Regions from separate parts of the Homo sapiens genome. Here region 1 is linked to region 2. Evidence: fine-mapped expression QTL. Tissue or cell type: pituitary. Region 2 holds a variant in brackets; the other region holds the start of a gene. All regions are shown on one strand. Distances are between the middles of the regions.

The links. PIP is the estimated chance that this variant, and not a neighbour inherited with it, causes the effect.
Region 1: it holds the start of BABAM2-AS2, and the variant in region 2 is fine-mapped to the expression of BABAM2-AS2 in pituitary (GTEx, PIP above 0.99).

Annotation. Positions count from the first base shown.
Region 1 is chr2:28,307,146-28,315,145 of GRCh38, reverse strand. It overlaps BABAM2-AS2 (BABAM2 antisense RNA 2), which reads left to right and starts at 4,687. Exons shown (of 3, transcript NR_038319.1): 1 at 4,687-4,869; 2 at 5,167-5,209; 3 at 5,572-7,455. All of the region lies in intron 11 of BABAM2 (BRISC and BRCA1 A complex member 2), which reads right to left. It also overlaps the pseudogene RPL23AP34. RefSeq lists an enhancer at 4,784-5,983.
Region 2 is chr2:27,749,788-27,758,047 of GRCh38, reverse strand. No RefSeq gene overlaps it. Among named protein-coding and RNA genes, the nearest start is that of MRPL33, 18 kb to the left of the region's middle. RefSeq lists an enhancer at 4,810-5,428. The variant G/C (reference allele first, on the strand shown) is at 3,214.

The DNA of each region.
Region 1 (8,000 bases), 560 kb before region 2:
CTCCCCTCTCCTTCTCTCCCTTCCCTTCCCCTTTTCCCCTCCTCTCCCCTCTCCTCTCCTTCCTTCCTTCCCTCCCCCCTTTCCCCTCCCCTCCCCTTCCCTTTCTTTCTTCTCTCTCTCTCCTTCTCTCTTTCCTTTCTTTCTTTTCCCTCCCTCCCCACCTTCCTTCTTTTCTCTTTTCTTTTCTTTCCTGCCTTATCTACTGCTCTTGTCTTCAGTGGACACCGGCATACCTCCTGGAACCCCCATGCTTCCCATCTTCTGGGCCTTTGTGCACTCTGTTTCCTCTGGAGGAGTGTCCTCCCCTCTCTGCACATCAAATCCTACCCAGCCTCCAATTTCAGCTTCCTGGGTCCCAGTAAACAGACATAATCTTCTTTCCTCGACTCCTAGTGCTCTTTCCCTGCACGTTGCCACCTTAAAGAGAAGAATCTATGTGCAATTCTCATCCCTCCTCTAGTTCACCGAAAGCAGGGACTGTATCTTACACATCACTTAACATCGTACCTAACACCTAGTTTGAATTCAATAAACATCTGCTGAATGAATGAATGGGAAAAGTGATCTAGGCTAGTGATCTGGGCAAAATCTAATTAAATGTTAGCCACTACAAATCCACACTGGGGCATGCCAAACCTGAGTGTCAACCAAGGCAAACAGCCTAGACCCTGCAGTTCTAAACAGAGAGCTGAGCTCAGCTGCCTGGTGAATTTGGGATAACTCAGACCTTAATCTGAGGAAAAGAGGTGGTGCAGTATGAAACCAATCTAAAAGTTGGGAAAGCCAAGGTATATGCTCAGTTCCTACACTAAGTGACTCTGTGACCTTGAATACGTCCCTTCCTTTTGCAGGGTCTCAATTTCATAACCCGTAAAATAGGTGTAATAGCAGTACCTAGCTCATAAGGTTGTTACGAGAATTACAGAAATTAAAAAACATAAAGCACTTAGAGCTATGCTGGTGTACTATAATTATTCAATACATTTTACAATTCTTATTGTCTGTAAGGTGATTAGGAGGCACTGGGTGACCCATTGTTTATTCTGAGAAAATACGTGATCTTGCCCTTATATGCACGTTCCTGTAATGCTCACTTTTCTGGATACCTGGAATAATGACAGTTTAAGGATTATCCAGTCTCCCAAATGATCAATAATGCAAAACTGGGGTTTTCTACATTTTGATTTTGATTGTTAGAAGAACTACATAGCTTCCTGCTTTGCAATTCGGACTGTACTCAGTCTGCTGAGTAGTTAATGCCGTGGACAGCCTCACTGTCAGAATGTAATCTCAAGCAGCGATGGACCATTCCAGAAATCAATCAGTAGGCTTTGAGTTGGTGCTCTTCAAAATGTGTGTGTGTTAGTCTTCAGTGCTTTGTACATATTCTGCATATAGTGAGCTCTTACACGTTTGCTGAAGAGATTTAGCAGTAACTTAACTGCAGCTACACACAGACTGTAGGCTTACTAGTTGCTTCTGGATCAACTAGGAAACCACTGTTCTGCCCAATTCTCACAATCATGGCTGCTCTAAAGGCTGTTCTTCCGAGTGTCAAGGCCCCGCTACCTGGCAACTCAGCCCTGCCCACTCATGGCACACAAGGAGACAAACAAACTACTTTTTTTCCTCAGAAGTGACTTTGGATTACAGACTACCCTAGCTCACCCCCACCCCATTTCTGCTTTCTTGGCTTCGATTTTCCATTAGGCATGACTAAGTGCCAGAGGTTCTGTCTGTCTGGGAAAATAGGAGTCACTGGAATTTTCTATCCTCTTCTCAATGTGCAGCCTCCCTGCTGCTTTGGAGATAGCAGTAAAGTGATGTCTTTCCTTTGGCGCATTCCATTACAATACTCCTTCTTCTCTTTTGCCCATAGACGCTAGTAATAAGTTTGGCCACAGAAGCATGTTACCTTCTCTTAAAAGTACTTGGTTTTTAGACTCTCAGCAGGGTTATTTCTGCTCACAAACACCCTGGGTTTTCCCCATGGGCACAGAGGCCTTCAGCCTCCTGGGTGAGCCACTAGGAAGAAGGCACCCATGCCAGGCCACTCCACGGGTAGGTGGATGTGTACGTGGTGCAGGCTAAACTCCTGCCCTTGATGATTCTGTGCTGCTCCTGTGAGCAAGGGAGCAGGAAAGAGGGGAAACGTAGGAGGTCAGAGGTGGCTTGGGCTGGGCTTTGGACCAGTAATCAGGGGCATAGGGTTCTAATCTTGATACTGTATGCCTTGCACAAATTCTTCTAGGAAATGAAAATGATGAACTGAAAGTCAACTCTATGCCAATCACTGTGCTTAAAGGTCTATATCGATTATTTCATTGAATGTCTATCACAATAGTTAATGCTTACCATATTTAGACCTGGCAGTACTAGATGATCTCTAAAGTTCCTTCCATGTTCCATGTTCTGTGACTGGCCCCCACTGTCACACTTAACTTCCCAGGATGCATTCCTACTTAGTCACCCAACTTATCTCTGCTGTTGGTTGTGGATTTTGCAGGACAGTGGAGTAGAGGTAACTGCCCCAGTGAGTTTTCTAAATTTTGGTTTTGATTTTTAGAAGAACTACGTAACTTCCTGCTTTGTAATTCTGAGTTGTACTCAGTCTTCTGAGTAGTTAATGCCATAGATAGCCTCATTGTCAGAATGGAATCTCAAGGAGTGACAGACCATTCCAGAAATCAATCAGTAGGCTTTGAGTTGGGGCTCTTCAAAATACGTGTGTGTGGTAGTCTCCAGTGCTTTGTACATACTCTGTATATAATGAGCTGGATGGTACCTGCTTCCCATTTTTGCTCACCTCTGTAAATCCTCTACTTTAATAAGGCATGAATCTAGTTCATTTTCACAGGTGGCCCTTGTGCTGAATGATCTGACAAAAGACAAGACAGAATCTTGTTTCTGCAGAAGCAAGGCCTCTGCTTGTCATTATGATATGCACACAATGGACAATCCTGATGGTTCTTTGATGCTTCCCTTTTTTCTAGAATTCATGCCTTAATGAGAAGTGATAGAAACAAGCGGCTTGGCCCTCCTGCCTTGGCTGGACTCCACATCACTCATGACAGCCCTGAGCAGCCCTGGCGGCACCTGTCATAAACTAACACACACATCTGAACAGTCAAGCCTAATTCCTAAGAAGCTGTTTTAACTTGACATCTGAAAATGTATTGCATCTAGAATTATTTTATTGGGTGTGTGTTCAGGGCATATGTGTGCACGTTCTGCAACTGAAGTGTTCTATAAATATCAGATACGAGCTGTACAAAAAGGCATCACGTACACGGTGTACTTAATTCCATTTAGTAATGTTTTCAATTTGTGTCTGACCTCCGGCAACAGAGATGGAAGTTTCTCAACATGAATAAAAAAGTATGCTCAGCTACCTTAAACAATTTTCACTTAAAATTCCAGAAATATATTAGAGCTTAGTGATTACCAGGTGGGTACTAGCCCAGTACTTTCAGAGGAAGGTACTGAAGTCCAGAAAGGTGACGTGTCTTTTCCATGATCACGAAGGAAATTAATAATGGTCCCTAGATGAGACCCAGGTCACTTGACTCCCAGGCCACTATCCTTTGCTTTTTCTTGACTTACTGTACGTTTCTTCCCCCAGCTGTTCAAAAGGAACTCTGATTCCATTAATAGCATATGTTCCTACTATGGTTTATCATAAAAATCCCAAACCAGCTCCTCTACCCTTTCCTTTCTAACTCTATAGGACACCTGTCTATTTTTCCAGGAAAGAGAATACGTGACCCTAACTCACAAGCAAGGAAGTTGCTCTCCTTGGTGATCCCAAACACTTCCCCAGTGGCTGGCGGGGTAATTGGAACCCAAGCTTGAACACTCGATTGTTCTTTTTTTTTTTTTTTTTTTGAGACAGGGTCTCATTCTGTCGCCTAGGCTGGAGTGCAGTGGCGCGATCTCGGCTCACTGCAAGCTCCGCCTCCCGGGTTCACGCCATTCTCCTGCCTCAGCCTCCCAAGTACCTGGGACTACAGGTGCCCACCACCACACTCGGCTAATTTTTTGTATTTTTAGTAGAGGCAGGGTTTCACCATGTTAGCCAGGATGGTCTTGATCTCCTGACCTTGTGATCCGCCTGCCTCGGCCTCCCAAAGTGCTGGGATTACAGGCGTGAGCCACCGCGCCCAGCCCACTCAATTGTTCTTGAAAGGGCACACCTGAGTTAATTTTCCTGACAAAGATGTGCTGACCTTCCAGTTACTCTTTTTTTCTTTATTTTTATTTTTGAGACGGGGTCTTGCTCTGTCACCCTGGCAGGAGTGCAGTGGCACGATCTTGGCTCACTGCAACCTCTGCCTCCCCGGTTCAAGTGATCCTCCTGCCTCAGTCTCCTAAGTAGCTGGGATTACAGACGCCCGCCATCATGCCTGGCTAATTTTTGTATTTTTAGTAGAGACAGGGTTTCACCATGTTTCCCAGGTTGGTCTTGAATTCCTGACCTCAGGTGATCCACCTGCCTCGGCCTCCCAAAGTGCTGGGATTACAGGTGTGAGCCACCACGCCCAGCCCAGTTACTCTTTCTGTGTGACTATCCTGATAAGCTGAGTTCAGTGCAGCTTCTTCTGGCTTGTGTGACTGAGGCCAGAACAAAAGCCCTAACTGTTTTCCACTGAGAAAGCAGGATAAACAGGGGGTGCAGTCTTTAAAACTGCTCTCAGAGAAGCTTCCAGTGGAACCAAAGGAATACAGATGGAGGGCCTGGGGAGAGATGGCCTGAGGGGACCTGCAGAAGGGATTTACCTGCTGCCCCTCCCCCAGGGGAGCCAGGAGACTGAGCTGGGCTGTAAACACTCCGTGCCTGGTGCAGCCTGGTCTGCACAGGCTGAGAGGATGGTGAGTGGCTTCCTCTGGGATGAGGGCTGTATTGGCAGTAATTGATGGCCAGGCTTTTCAATGGAGCTTATCATTTCACTGCAACAGATGTCAGGTTCTAATAAATAACACGTTCTCACTGACCTATGCAATTTGGAGAGGATGCCTGGATGTCAGGCAGAGCTGGATTCCTCCCCATCTCTGTTGCTCTCTCTTCTGTAAGGAAAAACAAACCAAATCCCTTTAAGATACTTTTCAAAAGGGTTCAAGGATCCAATAATTCCACGTTATTTATATGATTTGCTTTTCTCTTCACAGCTCTACTTCTAAACCCCATAAGGAAAAGGCCCAGGAGGGACGGGTGAGCTTGCTCGTGCGGAATGGAAGGCCTTGGTGACCTCAGTCCCCAATTCCTGTGTCGCTCACCAGCACTGACTTTATTGTCTTCTCGGGGGCTCTGATCACCCGAGCTATGTTGGCCTGGGCCTGGAAAACTCCCTCATCTCTCTTGTGGGGAGTTCAGCTGAGATGAGGTTGGTTCAGCTGGTTGTGCTGGTACCAAGAAGATACAACCACAGGGGATGACAGTCCATTAATGGGGTGGCCTTAAACTTTGGGAACTCTAGCCAAGTTACCGAGGTTAAGGGACTGTTTACTGGGGTACATATGATGGTATCAATATTGACTCTGCTTTTAATTTAAAAATCTCCTCTTTTTCTCTAGGGATGTTGCTGCTGATAGCTAAAAATGATCAAATTCTTACCATATGCCAGACCTTATGCTGGACAATTCACTGACATTATCCCACGTAGTAGGCAGAATTCTAACGTGACCCCCAAGATTCTCCACCTTCTGTGTAATCCCCAGGATTGTGAATGTGATGGATTTCATTCTGGTAAACAGGTTTTGTTATATGGCACAGATGACTTTAAGACAGGGAGGCTTTAAATCTGTGACTAGCAGAAGACATATGGAAGGCAGAGATTCAAAATATAAGAGGGATCTGACGCACCACTACTGGCTTGAAAATGGAGGGGACCACATGGCAGAGGACGCACGCAGCCTCTAGTTGCTGAGGGTGGTCTCCAGTTGACAGCGGCAAGGTAACAGGGGCCTCAGTCCTACAACCACAAGGAACTGAACTCTGCCAACATACTGAAAGAGCTTGAAGGAGGAGCATAAGCCTCAGGGGTGAGATCATAGACCCAGACAAAGCCTTGATTTTAGTTGCCTAAAACCCCGAACTGAGAACCCAGGCATCTTGAGTGGGACTCCTAACCCACAGAAACTGTGAGATTAATAATTAGTGGCGTTTTAAAAGGGTTAACTTATGATATTTTTAAAATTAGCAACACAGAAAATCATACACCCCATGTGATACCCATCATAACCCTCTCAAGTAGGCTTCACCATTTTATAGACAAGGAAACAAAGACCCAGGGAAATTAGGAATTTGCCCAAAGTCACATAGCCTGTGAGTGGCAGAGACAGGTTTAAACCCAGCTATGTCTTGACTTTATGGTCAGTGCTCTTCATTGCCTCATGCATTTCCTCTCTGTATGAGAAGAGAGCCTCAGACACATGGTGAAAAGAGTATGGAACTGTTTCTGTCTGCCTGGGTGTGGATGTGCAGAAGGGTCAGAGGACCTATGCTTTTGTTTTGGTTTTAAATGGTGAAAAGACATATACATAGAATCAACTAGCTGGATTCAGTTTAGATGATCCCAATATGCCTTCTTCTCTCCATCAGGCCTGATCAGGGTGTTGGCTTTGGCCACAGCAGTGTCACTGAGCTTCTTCACAGCCTGTTTGATCTGGTGCTTGTTGGCTTTGACATCCACAATGGACACAAGTTGTGTTGTTGTCTTCTATCTTCTTCATGGCTGACTCAGTGGTTGGGGGAACCTGATGATGAATTATTGGTCAAGCTTGTTTCTCCTGGGAGTGCTCTTCCAAGCATATTTCTGCTGCCTGCAGAGCCACACTGTCTTGGGCCACTGGCAGGTGGGTGATGTGTGGATTGGATCTTCTTTTTGTGGCTGTGGACACCTTTAAGCACTGCCTTCCTGGCCTTCAAAGCATTCGCTTTGGCTTCAGCTTTGGGAGGGGCAAGAACTTTTTTCACTTTTGGTGCCATAATGTGAAAATGAGGACCTATGTTGAGCCCTCACTCCTCTAGAAGCCAGCTGTGTGCCCTCGGCAAAGTCAATTAATCACTCTGAGCCTCAGTTTTTATAATCTGTATGAGGCCTACTAAGAATTTCTGCATTATAACCCTTGAAGGGCTGCAGCTGATGATCCCATAAAAGTGTGTGAGGGGCCACTGTGAATGAAGTCCACAGGGCAGACAGAGGCACCTGGATGTCATGTAGATATCATTTTCTTTTCTTGATGACTGCCAATTTCAATGTCCTCTGCCTATAGGCTGGATATGGTCACTCTGATGGCTTATTTGGAGGAAGTAATTTTAAATAGGTTTTTTTTTTAGAGGAAATGATTATTTATTACATTTATTGAAAAACTACAGAATAAGATGGAAGGTAATTTTTCTTTTTTTCTTGAATTCTTTAAAAGTTAGTTGACTATTAAAAGCCAAAGTAATAACAATGTATTGTGGAATTCATAAAATACGAAGACTGAAAGTGTGTGAATATGACAGCACAAAGATAAATAGAAGGTACACAGATAATTACACTGTTTATACAGGAAGCATTATAATATTAATTCACGGTAGGCTGTGATAAGTTAACGGTGTATTTTTAGTGTATAAATGACTAAAATATACAAAGAAATATAGCTAACACACCAACAGAAGAGAAAATGGTAAACTAAAAAATACTTTAATAAACTGAAAGAATACAGGAAGAAAAGGACAAAGGAATAAAAAAAAAAAACCCAAACCAAAAATATGAATAGAAAGACTGTAGGGCTTAAACCCAGTAAGCTTATTATTTATATTAAATGTATAAATAAATGAAATACTCCAATTAAGGCCAGGTGTGGTGGCTCATGCCTGTAAGCCCAGCACTTTGGGAGGCCAAGGCAGGTGGATCACTTGAGGTCAGGAGTTTGAGACCAGCCTGGCCAATATGGCAAAACCCCATCTCTACTAAAAATATAAAAAATAGCCAGGTGTGGTGGTGTGCGCCTAT
Region 2 (8,260 bases):
TGCAACTTATGATGAAGGTATAGTTGTTCATTATTAAGCTAGTTTGAGTGCAATATTTAGCAATTTTCTTATTGTCAAGGACTTGATACGCCTTGTCTTTTTCCCCCTTATAGAATCTTTTTTTTTTTTTTTTTTTGGCTGGGTCTCACTCTGTTGCCCAGGCTGGAGTGCAGTGGTGCAATGATGGCTCACTGCATGCAGCCTCAATCTCCCTGGGCTCAGATGATCCTCCCACCTCAGCCTCCCAAGTAACCGGGACTACAGGCATGAAACACCACACCCAACTGTTGTTTTTTTTGTTTTTTTTTTTTTTTTGAGAGATAGGGTCTTACTATGTTGCCCAGGCTGGCCTTCAACTCCTAGCCTCAAGTGATCTGCCCACCTCGGCCTCCCAAACTGCTGGGATTACAAGAGTGAACCACTGCACCTGTCCCCGAATTTTTTTTTTTTAACTTAGAAGATTAAAAGAATTGTTGTGTTCTAGGCATCCAAATTCCTGGGAGATGGGAAAGTAGCCTAGAGTCCCATTTCCATTTGATGGATGGAGCCCTGAATAGAAATGGCATTCCCCAGAATAGAATGGCATATTTTGAGGCTTTGGCCCTACGGAGGAAGTTTCCAGATCTTCTGACACTCTCTGATCCTTCTGGCTGGATCCATTTCCTCCTGGAAGAGCACACAGAAAGTATGGTCTGGTGGGAGCACAGGCTCAGAACAACCATCCCACTCCTGGGTGCCCTCACTGCACACATTCCCAGCAGCCAAGGACATTCTCTTTGGCTTCAGGTTAAAGAGCAACACAAGTGGATAGTTGTGGGTAAATTCTAACACAAAGTATCAACCATTGGCTCTGGTGCTCTGAGAAAGAACCCCATTTAAATTATTAGGAGAGAGTCAAGAAGAGGAAGCTGAAACTCTGCAAAGAGCAGGGCCTGCAGCTGCAGCCCAAGTTGGCCCAGCTCTGTTGACCTTGGCTTTGTCTTTGAGGAACACACGCTTGTGTCTGCCTATTTCATCAGCTGTTCCCCGTCTGCCCTTCCCTTTCCCACCCTGGGAAGTGGTGAGGAGGGTTAAGTGACAGCCTGTGAGGCAACCACTCAAGCACAGGGGGAGTCTGAGGGAGGCTGTTTCACTCTTTCCAGCCAGGACCCACCCAACAGGCTCTCCTCAAATCGAAGTCCATGAAAGAAAAGTATTCATCTGCCCCAGGGTCTTCCCCACTGTCCTGACACTACATGGACTCTCTCCTATGTCCTCATGGCTATGTGTGGGGTGATGTGCAGCACCTCTGAACCTGTTTCGGCCAGGGCGGCCCCCAGAATCTCAGAATGTTAGAGTTGGAAGATCTCAGAGGGCATCTAAAGCAACATTCTCATTTTACACATGATAAAACTGAGGCCCAGAGAAGTAAAGTGACCTGCCGAAGGGCCCACAGCTAGACTGCATCAGCATGCTGAGACTACAGCCCGTGTCTCCTCACTCCTGCACAACAGAGAGCTAAAGGACCAGCATGTTCAGATGTGGCCACTCTTTGGGTAGAAGACAGCACCAGAGATGAGTGCTCAGTGTCTGTGAAGTCACAGGGGCTTGGCAATGGGAGGCTTAGGAGACTCTAAGGAGTTGAAATACATTTTGAACATGTGCAGAAGAGTCTTTCGATCCAAGTCTTGGAGGAAAGCAGGCCAATTTCAGGCTGAGATGGGACAGGTGCTGACTGTGGGGAGGGAGAGGGGCCCATGCTGGAGCAGTCCAGGAATCCTAATCCACGCCTGGGTGGTCCCCAGGCTTCCAAGCCCCCTGGGATCCTGGGAAGTTCCAAGACTGCTGAGGCAGGTCAGCAGGTTCCCGGTTGAACTCAATTACCAGGCCCACTTTGGGGTGCTCAGAATGGGTCAAGAAAGCAGCCATCAGCAGAAGGTGTTGACATGGGACTCCAGGGTACTAGGTTGAGACAATGTGTATTGATTTAAAAGGCACAGAAACCGTAACTGCACACAACTTTACACACATATTCTTATCAACATGTTGTTCCACTGATCATCTAAGGGGTGGTCAGCTTCCCTGGTCACTTGCAGCTGAGAAATGCAGCCTCGGTGACCTTCAACTGAGGAGGAGTCGACATTGGCTTCCGGTCTTCCCAGAGCCCTTGTTGTTTGTTTGTTTGTTTGTTTTGAGACGGAGTCTCGCTCTGTCACCCAGGCTGGAGTGCAATGGCGCGATCTCGGCTCACTGCAAGCTCCGCCTCCCGGGTTCACACCATTCTCCTGCCTCAGCCTCCCGAGTAGCTGGGACTACAGGCGCCCGCCACCATGCCCACCTAATTTTTTGTATTTTTAGTAGAGACGGGGTTTCACCGTTTTAGCCAGGATGGTCTCGATCTCATGACCTCATGATCTGCCCGTCTTGGCCTCCCAAAGTGCTGGGATTACAGGTGTGAGCCACTGGGCCTGGCCAAGCCCTTGTTTAAGAACCACCTTCTTTGGCTTTTCACCCCAGGGTTGCTGGGGACACCTGATGTCCTACATTATTAGGCTTTTCCTGGCTTCTGAAACCTTGTGCTGAAAGTCTCTCTGAGAGCGATACAGATTGATTAGACACTCGGATTGTTTGACACGTGTGGTTTTGCCAAAGGCAACACGTTCTTTGACCAACTTCTGAAACTCCCCAGTTCTCCTAGTCTCTCTGGACTTGAGTATCAGCCATGTTCTTATGTTGATGCCAAGCTCCTGGGTGATTAAAATTCTTCTAACCACCTTTCTGATTCAAGGCTGTACTCTGACAACACAATTGCTTTTTGGGGATTTTTGCAAACATCTCAAAAGGGCAAGAAACATTCTTCCTCCCTTTTAGCCCAATGTAGACCGGAGGTTTTTTCAGCCGTCAGCTGAATGCTGGGCCCCACCAGTGCCCAGTAGGTACAGTCCCATCCACTGTGAGGTGGGCTCCAGGGAGGGCCGTTGGGTCCATGTGAAGCCAGCAGGAGGGGCCATGTGAAGCCAGCGTCTGAGGGGCTCCCCATGAGGCCACCAAGCCCCTGTCAAACCTAGTAAGTCACCCTGACACCAACCCCACCCTTCCTCAGAAGAGCAGTGAATAAACAAGAGCATGTGAATTGGGCAACTCCAGGTGGGGGTGCAGGGAAAGTGCTCAGGCTTGAAGGGGGGATAGAGAGGGGCTGGTAGAGTCACAGTGGGGAAGCAGCTGAAGGAGACG[G/C]ATCGGTGAAGGAGCTCATGTGGAGGGGCCCCAGATAGTGAAGGAGGGTCCAAACCAACATTTTCTATTCTTTGCCCAGTAAAGTTTCATGAATCAACTCAAATGTTTGCTTGCTCTCACCTTCTGCCCCTAAGGAGGAAGTTGGGGGATAGCTGGTCCAAGGATTTGGACTTTGGGGCTCTCCATTTGTAAGTAAGGAAAAAGTCAAGATGAGCCATCATACTCTGTTTTCATTCCATCCTTGGCACAGACAACATATTACTCCAAAGGAGAGCTGAATAACAGAATTTAAAGGGAAATTAGAGATGAGAACATTTAGTCATCATCCTCATTTTACAGATGAGAAAACTGAGGCCCAGGGAGGTTAAACATTAAATAATGTGCTCCAAATCACTCAACCAATAATTGCAGAACTGGCAGGACTAGAACTCTGCCGCCTAATTCCCAGTTCATGCATTTTCTTGCCTTCTGCTGTGCCTGACAGGTTCCCAGTGGTGAAAGTCGGCCTTGGAGCGCCCTCCCATGGCTGTGGACAGCTACTGGAGCAGCTGTGGCACAGGCCAGTGTTAACTTGAGGATAGAATGACCTGCAGGGCTGGTTGAAACAGATTGCTGGGCCCCACCCTTGGAGTTTTGGGTTGTCTAACAAGTCCCCAGGGGACGCTGACCTACTGATTCAAAGACCACTTACTCAGAAACTCAGATGTAGATAAAAGATTTTGCAGCCAGAATACCTGGTTTCAGGTCCCAGCTCTGCCATCCAAGTGCTGATACCTTGAACATGGTACTTAATCTCTTAGCATCTCGATCTCTTTATTTTATGATGGCAACAATAACAACCACCCATAGGGTTAATGTGTAAAATAAATAAATCAGATGTAAAATACCTGAGAAGTGACATGCTGATGCTGTGTGAATATACAGATTCACAAATATGTGACCTTTGTCTGGAGAGATGCCACTGGAGGCCAGGGAATGTCCACAGAGACAAAAGCATTCTCTTAATGCTACTCAAAATTACAATAAATCCAGAAGAAATTGTGTTTATCCTGCCACAAATACTGGCTGAGGAATTACGAGGGCCTGGCACTGTGCTGTACACCACATTTGCAAAGGTGAATGACAGTCCCTGCCCTGGAGGAACAACTAGAAGGAAGATAAACATGTAAATTCTAATAATTACCCTAATCCCAGATGAGCCAGGGAAGGAACCCTGTGCCTAGAGCACAGAGCATCCCACCCTGTCTGAGAAGTCAAGCAAGGCTTTGAAAAAGAACCTGACTTTTGAGTAGGGTCTTGAAGGATGAATAGGAGTTCTTTAAGAAGAGAAGTGGTAGGGGGCACTCCAGGCAAAGGAAACAGCATATGCAAAGTAGTCACGGAAGCATGAAAATGCATAATATTTTCAAGGAAATCGCACGTGGTTCTATGTAACTGGAGCTCAGTGGGTCTGGGAAAAGGACTGGCAAAAAAGGCTAAGAAGTTTGGGCCATGCCGGGCACGCGGGTGGCTGAGGCAGGAGAATGCTGTGAACCTGGGAGGCGGAGCTTGCAGTGAGCCGAGATCGCGCCACTGCACTCCAGCCTGGGCGACAGAGCGAGACTCCATCTCAAAAAAAAAAAAAGAAGTTTCGGCCTGACTGTAACCTGGTGGGAAGCCATTGGAAGACACCCGACGAGGATTCCCTGAAAAAATTCTTAATGAGTCCCTAAGGCAAAGATTTCCAAGCCAAGCGCTTCACCACATACCCTCAGCGGCCCCAGTGCCTGAGAGCCTCCCCTGCCAGGAAGCCTAGCCCAGAAACGCCTCCCGAAACGGGTAGTGGCCCTGGGGAAGAAGCTTCCCTGGAAGGCACAAGCAGTAAACGGGCAGCCTCTTACCTCTTACCTTCATCAGATACTGGCGGGAGGCACCCTCCTGGCAGATTTCTTCATCCCCCTCTCCTTCTGTGGGTGTGGAGTCACTGGGAGAACAAAGGGATGTTATCTGTAGCTAATAAGTTATGGGAGGGGGAGGGAGCTGTAGGCGCCTGTGGGGGTGGGGAAATGAGTCCTGAGCAGCTCTGATGCAATCCAGAAAGAGGCAGGTGCAAGCCTGCACCTGGGAAGCAAACCCCCTGCCTCCCCAAAGTACACAGAGATTTGAAGCTGGAAGAGGCACCTCCAAGACTTGCCCGTGATCCCACAGCTAGCTGACGCCTGGCCCCCTCTCCCCACATCTGACTCCACGATAAAAGGTCTCAGTCTTGGAAAAACTGGCGGTTGCTGTGTTCATTGACCTCACTCCCTCTTCCTGAGTCTCTCCTGCAGCCTTCCCTTCCCAGCCCAGTCCCTGACCCTCTTTCAGACTCAGCCTTTGGTTTCCAAACAGGTATAGAATGTGGTGTGCAAAAAATGGCCTCCGCTATTTTTGAAAAAAGCAATGGCAAGAAAAAAAGAGCAAACTGCTATTCTGAGCCACATGGGCTTGGGGTTTTGATTCCAATTTCTTTGTCTCCGGTGGAGGTGGAAGCAACTTGCTCTTGTGGGAATAATCCCTTTTGTTTTTAGGAAAAGATTTTAATAGGTCTTTGGGTTATGCAAGGATAAAACGTGAACCTTTTCTGGAAAGGAGACAGTGCAATGCAGGACAACGTGAGGCCACAGGCTCCTCTTAGTCACTGTAAAATGTGGCTTTCTTTGAGAGAGAATGGCATCTCTGCAGAGGTTATGGGGAGTTTTGTTAAAGCTGTGCTTGGAGAACTTAAGAGAGGGGCTTGGGCTGGGCATGGTGGCTCACACCTATAATCCCAACAATTTGGAAGGCCGAGACGGGCGGATCGCTTGAGGTCAGGAGTTCGAGACCAGCCTGGCCAACATGGTGAAACCCTGTCTCTACTAAAAATACAAAAAAATTAGCTGAGTGTGGTGGCAGGAGCCTGTAATCCTAGCTACTCGGGAGACTGAGGCAGAAGAATCGCTTTAACCCAGGAGGTGGAGATAGCAGTGAGCTGAGATGGCGCCACTGCACTCCAGCCTGGGTGACAGAGTAAGACTTCATCTCAAAAAAAAAAAAAAAAAAAAAAAGAGAGGGGTCTGTTTCTGCAGTGGGCACCAGCAGGATTGAGCTGGTGACTGGCAGGGAGGACACCCAGGATGTGTGTGAATTCTCAGGAGTCCTTGCAAACAAGGGGAGAGGAAACCCAGGCAGGGCCGAGCTGTGCTGTTCCCGTTTGGTGACTGAAGGGACTGTGAGTGTGAAGGCAGGTGACAGGAGGATGGGTGGGGGTTGTGTCCTATTCCTCTCTCTGGCAGGGCTACCAAGGGCATCCACGCCAGTTCAACAACCCACTGAGCTCTTCCTAAAAGGACTACAAAGTCAGGTCAAAGAGGCACGGCCACCCCTGGTCCCCCTGCCACAGCCGGCCTGGAGTCAGAGCCCATCCTGAGAACAGAGCCCCACGCATCTTTCCACCCTCTGTGCTAAAAGGAGGACTGAGGTCTAACGGGGCGCCAGTGTAACCTCTTAGTTCCTAAATGTTTTACTTTGAAATGTCTCTTTTTGCTAACTACCTGACTTTGAAAAGGTAAAATGCTTTCTTTTGAAAAAGTTTTTATAGGAAACTGGATTAACCTGGGATTCAGGATGCAGGTCCCGCCAGGTTTCAGGAGTTGGGTTTAAAACTGGAACCAAGGGAAGGAATAAATGGGCATTTGGGGCTTAAAGCACTTCTGTTCTATATTAATGTAAAAATTACATGAATCTATTATTTATATAAAATTATAAACATAAACATATATTATGGTACATATGTATATTGTTTTATAATGTATTATAACTTTTTTTTTTGAGACTAAGTTTTGCTCTTATTGCCCAGGCTGGAGTGCAATGGCGCCATCTTCGTTCACTGCAACCTCCGCCTCCCGGATTCAAGTGATTCTCCTGCCTCAGCCTCCCAAGTAGCTGGGATTACAGGCATGCGCCACCACGCCTGGCTAATTTTGTATTTTTAGTAGAGATGGGGTTTCACTATGTTGGTCAGGCTGGTCTCGAACTCCTGACCTCAGGTGATCCACCCACCTCGGCCTCCCAAAGTGCTGGGATTACAGGCGTGAGCCACAGCGCCCAGCCTAAAATAGTTTTAAAATAATAATTTATAACATCAAAATCCATTTTGGGCAGTGGCTCATGCCTGTAATCCCAGCACCCTGGGAGGCCAAAGTGGGTGGATCACGTGAGGCCAGGAGTTCGAGACCAGACTAGCTAATGTGGTGAAACCCCGTCTCTACTAAAAATGCAAAATTTAGCCAGGAGTGGTGGCACACACTTGTAATCCCCACTACCTGGGAGGCTGAGGCAGGAGAATCACTTGAACCTGGGAGGTGGAGGCTGCAGTGACCTGAGATCGCACCACTTCACTCCAGCCTGGGTAACAGAGTGAGAGTCTGTATCAAAAAAAAAAAAAAAAAAAAAAAAAATCTGCCAGGGCTTGGTGGCTCATGCCTGTAATCCCAGCACTTTGGGAGGCTTAGGCAGGTGGATCACTTGAGGCTAGGAGTTAGAGACCAGCCTGGCCAACATGGCAAAACCCCATCTCTATTAAAAACACAAAAAAAATAGCCAAGTGTGGAGGTGCACACCTGTAATCCCAGCTACTCCGGAGGCTGAGGCATGAGAATCACTTGAACCTGGGAGGCAGAGGCTGCAGTGAGCTGAGATCACACCACTGTACTCCAGCCTGGGTGACAGAATGAGACTCTGTCTCAGAAAAATAAAAGAAAGAAAAAAATATATTTTAATATAAATATAATAAATTTGTAGAAAATATAAATAATATGTAAATGTACAAAAACCATAAATGTCATCATTATCCCACCACCAAAAATTCATTGATGTCAATATTTTAAGATACTTCTTTCTGATTTTACTCAATGCATATAAACAAACAGGCAAACAAACAAATAATCTAATATACTGAACATCCACCTACAGTTATTCTACAATCCTGACAGAGAAAGAAAATGCTTCTTTTCCAAGAGTTCTAGCAAAAATCTCAGGACCCCCTCTC